Regions from separate parts of the Homo sapiens genome. Here region 2 is linked to region 1. Evidence: fine-mapped expression QTL. A gene starts in region 1. The other region holds a variant in brackets. All regions are shown on one strand. Distances are between the middles of the regions. Region 1 holds the start of LINC02988 (long intergenic non-protein coding RNA 2988). Region 2 overlaps VPS45 (vacuolar protein sorting 45 homolog).

Region 1 (2,917 bases):
TCCCACCTCAGACAGACCACCCCGCACAGTCAGTACCGGAAGAGCCTGATGTGAGGGCAGGGTGGGGTCTGGAACTTGTCGGGTTGGACAGACTCTTATCTCCGTGTTGCTGGATAAAGCTTTTTTATTTACCTCAATCAAAAAAAGAAAACAAAAATGAACTCATTGCTCTTGCTGATGCCTGACCCCACTACAACCCTTATTGCCCCACCTACTTTCCATATGCCCCTCGTATGCCCCTCAGGTTTGAGGAAGTGACCCCGCAGCAGTAGCAGGAAGTTTTTACCCAGCCAGAGAGAGAGAAGGCACGGTAAAGACACAGTCTGACCACTCCACACACCGCCCGCCCCCAAGACGGCACAGGGAGTCCACTGCTGCTCCCAAGGATACAGTGGGCTTCTAAGCTTAGAGCGGGAGGGGGATGAGGATGTTTTCTGTTATGTCCCACCCCAGGCCTTCAGTTTGAGGGTGAAGTTTCAGCTGCCCAACTCTAGTTGTAGGGATGTGGAGGCCAGTGTCACCTGTCCGTGCACATGGAAGTGAAATTTATCCCAGCCCTGAGGAGGATTTGTGGAATTAAAATCTCCCCAGCCAGACACTGGCTTCTCATTCCTAGCAGTCTCTCATTGAGATCGAGCTGCCTGGATTTTCTTACATGAGGTGTTTCTTCCCTTCATCTTCCACACCCTTCCCAACCTTGACTCAAAGATCCACCCTTGTCGGGCGCAGTGGCTCACGCCTGTAATCCCAGCACTTTGGGAGGCCAAGGCGGGTGGATCACCTGAGGTCAGAAGTTTGAGACCAGCCTGACCGACATGATGAAACCCAGTCTCTACCGAAAATACAAAAAATTAGCCAGGCATGGTGGTGGGCGCCTGTAATCCCAGCTATGCGGGAGGCTGAGGCAGGAGAATCACTTGAACCTGGGAGGCAGAGGTTGCAGCAAGCCAAGATTGTGCCATTGCACTCCAGCCTGGGCAACAAGAGCGAAACTCCGTCTCAAAAAAAAAAAAAAAATCCAACCTTGAGTGGATGAGACTAGTTTCATTATTTGATTCAGGGCCCTAGCACAGGGGAACTAGAGACAGACCCCACAGAAGAACTGAACTAAGAATGAAACTGGTGTGTGATGCAAGCTGGGTAGGATGAAGGGGAAAACCAAACATCTGTCCAAGTTCCTCTTTCAGCCATGCTGAGGTTTCCTGTAGCCTCCCCCTCTCCTTCCTCAAACCTCTTCCATCACTAAGCAAGTCCCCACTTTAGAAAAGCATCTGGATGCCCACGCCACCACCCTCCCAGCCACCTCTGAAGTTGCCAGGCTTCCCAACATTCTTGTCTGTGGTAGGTCCCACACAACTCACTGTTCACTCTTTCCTTGGAAGTGTGTGAGATGAGGTTTAGTAACGGTGAGGTCCCCAGAAGAGCTATGAAGGGAATAATTTGATTTTGGGAAAGAAGGGGACAGAGTCTCATGAATCAAGTAAATGAGGGGTTAAAAGCCACATTGAAGTGTGCCTTGCTAGCTGCTTGATCCTCCAAGAGCAGCGGGGCTTCACTAGAGGTAAGGGGAGGAGGGGGAGGAAACGGGGCCAAGTTACATGTAGACCTGGCCATGACGCTGCCCCGATGTTATAGGAAGATGGGATAGGAGGAAGCGGGGGAAAAACCTGTGGGAGAAACAGATTCTTCAGTCCGCATTCTTCTGCTCTAACGTCACTCCTACAACCCATGTAAGCAAAATGGGGGCCTCTGTCCCCTTTCCAGAAATCATCTCTTTCCTTCACAGCTCTTCTCTGGACCTTATCACTGCTGTTAAACCATCCCTAGGGCAGAGGAATTCTTGCTCTCTCTAGTCCCTTGCCACTCTGTCATGGAGATTGTCCCCAGCTCTAGACTGTAGTTACCTAGCCTCTTCCTTGAAGAATGTGTATCCCAGTTGAGTGAGGGAAAGTGTGCAAGAGTGCCACCTTCATGTCATTCTATGGTCTCTTGGGGTATGAGGTGAGAACCCAGGCTTCCAGACTTCCTGTCCTTCAAATAGCTGCACTCTCCACAGCCCTAAGCATGGTCAGCAGAGCCATCCATTGTCACAAGTATTGAAGTCTAAGGTAGAATTATGCTTTCTTTTTACAAGTCTCTATCTTTGTATTTTACCAGCATTTTTCCTTTTCTTTTTTTCTTCCTTGTTGCTCCCACATAATGAAAAAAGACAAAAGCACAAATGACATGTGTATCCCAACATGTCAATTATCTGTGGCTCCCAGGGGAGCCAGAAGATGGAGGGAGACACTAGAGAGGAGAATGACAGGTGAAAGAAGCAGAAAAGAAAGATCGGGGACCTCACAACAGTAAGAGAGGAGCTGGGCACTGTGCTCCTGGGCTTCAGGCTCTAAAACCAACAGCTTCCAGTTCTCCAGCAGTTACTGGAACATCCAGGCCCTAGGGTGGTGAAATGAGCCCAGCTTTGAAACCAGATGGATCTGGATTCAAATTCTAACTCTGTTACTTCTTGATTATGAGGCTCTGGGCAAGGCACATGCTTTCCGAGTATCAGTTTTTTTCATCTGCAAGCTGCAGAGCTATTGGATGGGTGAGGACAATATGGAAAATGCCTGTCAGTCAGAAAGTGACCACTGCAGCTACTGTTACTGGTTTGACTCTGGGCAGTGAGCCGCTAGCTCAGTTGGAAGGAGCACTGTGTGAATGAGGCCACCGGGGTGGGGTCACTGTCACTTAGCTAGATCCAGGCCACAGGCTGTGCTGGACCTCTCTCTTCAGAGGAGAGAGCCAGAAGGGATGAAAGCATGGTCCCTGGTCTTCAAGAACTTTAGAGCTTAGCATGGAACCAGGCTTCCCACTAGAAAAATCGCTTAAGGTGCACCCTTGTGGTAGGCTGCTGGCATGAGTTCTGTTGAAG
Region 2 (2,903 bases), 71 kb before region 1:
AGATTGCTAAATCATATAGTAGTTCTATTTTTAATTTTTTAAGGAATCTTCATACTATTTTCCATAATGGCTGTACTAATTTACATTCCCACCAGTTGTGTGTAAGGGTTCTTATTTCTCCACGTCATCATCAACAACACTTACTATCTCTAATAAGAAACAGCCAAGAGTCAAGATCCAAGTGAAGGTAAATAGAAAAGGGCAGAGACTGATTACTGCAAATAGTCTTTGACTGTCATCATACCAGTTTTGTGAATTTATAGTTACTTGGATTTCTCAGATTTGCTTAAAAGTACAGAGACAGATCAGCCAGAAAAGGTGGTAAGAGAGTGACTGCAAGGGCAGGAAATGAGACATTGTGCCTATAAGAAAAGTAACAACAGAAATCCCAAATGGGATTTCTTTTCTTTTTAAAAAAATTTTTTAAAATTTTTATTTATTTATTTGAGACAGTTTCACTCTGTCGCCCAGGCTGGAGTACTGTGGCACGTAATCTCGGCTCACTGCAACCTCCGCCTCCCAGGTTCAAGCAATTCTCCTGCCTCAGCCTCTTGAGTAGCTGAGACTACAGGCACCCGCCACTACATCCTGCTAATTTTTTGTATTTTTAGTAGAGAGGGAGTTTCACCATGTTGGCCAGGCTGGTCTCGAACTCCTGACCTCAAGTGATCCACCTACCTCGACCTCACAAATTGTTGGGATTACAGGTGTAAGCCATGGCACCCGGCCCCCAACAGGATTTCTTAATGTTTTAAACTTACGCTGTTGATTGAGATACATACATAATTTGTACCTGAAATTTCTTCATATTATAGTAGAAAATAGTGGAACATTTGAACAGATACCCTAAATGGGCTGTATTCCGTGGCTGCTCTAGGGGAAAGATCCCATGAAAGGAAAAAAATAAGAAAAATCTTACGAATTTGGGATCGAAATCTACAGAAGAGAAGTTTCTCCCTTTTTGATCCCTTAAGGATGATGGTAGTGAAATAGTAACCCAAAAAATCAACAATAGAAATCTCTTTCAGAGAACTCTGTACTTGAAAGCTACATGGGAGGTTCCCCATTATCATCATAGTCCCTAGTCAGTGTGAACAGAAGAGCTCTTAGACATTGGACATGGTTGTTGTCAGGTACAAAAGAGATAATGTACGTGAAAGCATTTTGTAAGTTGTAAAGTAATCATATAGTTGATAGTTATGTCCTCAGAATTCAGTGCCCTTCAAGGCTCTTGCCAGCCTTTCAAACCAAGCCATTTCTTCCTCTGATTTCCATATTTATTTTGATAGTGCCACTGCTTTTGGTCTCTCACACTGGTTCCAATACTTACTGATTCTTCAGGACCTTTGGCAAGTGTCACCTCTGTGAAGTCTTTCCTAATTTCTCAACAACCCAATATACTTTCTCTTCCCCTTTCTCTCCCCTTCCTCTTTTGCACTGATTTTCAGCTTTTGCTTTTTGTTTTGTTTTTTGCATACATGTTTCTGTTA[T/C]AACACCACATATTTGTTCCTGAAAAACCTCATATTCTATAAAAACATGCACTAAAAAAAGGGTTATGAGAATATAGGGTTATAAGCAGACCACTTAAAATCTACATGACTATAGAAAGAAAGAAAACATTCATATAATTTTTAAATCAGAGCCCTAATAAAAATAGTAACAATTATAATAAAAATACTAGCATGGTTAAATCTCCACCGGCATTTGCACCTAGAAATAGAGCCAGTCCATCCTCTGCAGCCTTATTCCTGGGGCTCATGTTTTCTTCAAATTATAAGGTCTTGAAAATACTCACTTCTCATAAAGACTACTTTGTCAAAATTAAAAATACCATATGGAGACAGCTTTCTTCATCAATCAGTGTTTGATTGTTATTTTGTTTTGTTTTGCTTTTTTACACAGTGCAATATATTTGCATCCTTTTTATTTGCACTTGCCCTTTCCCCATATAGCATAACACAGTGGAAAGTGCAACAGTTCTTGAAGCTACAAAACCAGATACTTCTTGCAGAACACACTTCTGTAGGATTATCATCTTTTTTTCTTAAGGTATTGGTAAGGCTTCCCCTTTAATCATAAGAAAGCCTATCCATTCTGGAAAAATTACATGTGAACCAATATGCCTTCTGTGTTAAACTGACACCATTTCCATATTTATCCATCTCACAGAACTAAAGTACATTAAAGAAACATGTATATAGCAGAATAAATTATATTACTTTGATCATCCTTCACCCCATTGACTGTGAACTCACTGGGGACAGGAATTGTCTTTAACTTATCTGTGTGCCTGCAACAGTGCATGACATACTGCCTTATGGGGACTCAAAAGTATTTGTTGACTTGAATTAAATTATTTGTTCTGCTGCATAATAAATATAAATCTATACTATATGGAAGGTCCTGAATATGAGGATTAAAAAATGTAAACATGGCTTCTCCTGGCCCCCTTTCCTATCGGTACCTGCCTCTTAAAATCATTAAGTACTAAATCTAGAGATTACATGCTATTACATACTCATCTCTGTCAACCATGTTGAGACATGTTCTGATGCTTCTTAGAGATCAAGCCCAGTCTGTGTAAAATTCTACCAACTTGTCTCCATTTCACTGGTCAATCATTAATACTAAGAGAAAGCAGTAGGTTTTGCAAATCAACTAGTCAGTTTTGTTGTGCCGTATTGATTCAAGTCGTGGAAATAGTAAGTGTTCTTTCAGCAAGGAAATTACAACTTCAGCTATTGGAAAAGAAAAGTGGAACTATCCATTATTAAATTCATTTTTGTCCTAAAGCAATTACAATGGAAATATATTTCCTTATTTAATTCTTACCTTGGACAAAAGGCATTTAATTTTCTATAGTTGAGACAGTTGCTAAATGTATGACTTATAATTGTCATAGT

What was found. PIP is the estimated chance that this variant, and not a neighbour inherited with it, causes the effect.
Region 2: its variant is fine-mapped to the expression of LINC02988 in whole blood (TOPMed, PIP 0.98).

What each region holds. Positions count from the first base shown.
Region 1 is chr1:150,159,470-150,162,386 of GRCh38, forward strand. It overlaps LINC02988 (long intergenic non-protein coding RNA 2988), which reads left to right and starts at 1,259. Exons shown (of 4, transcript NR_135098.1): 1 at 1,259-1,341. It overlaps PLEKHO1 (pleckstrin homology domain containing O1), which reads left to right. Exons shown (of 6, transcript NM_016274.6): 6 at 1-596. The coding sequence ends at 54. RefSeq lists silencers at 189-238, 1,939-2,008, 2,597-2,666 and an enhancer at 1,019-1,328.
Region 2 is chr1:150,088,933-150,091,835 of GRCh38, forward strand. All of the region lies in intron 10 of VPS45 (vacuolar protein sorting 45 homolog), which reads left to right. Among named protein-coding and RNA genes, the nearest start is that of VPS45, 23 kb to the left of the region's middle. The variant T/C (reference allele first, on the strand shown) is at 1,491.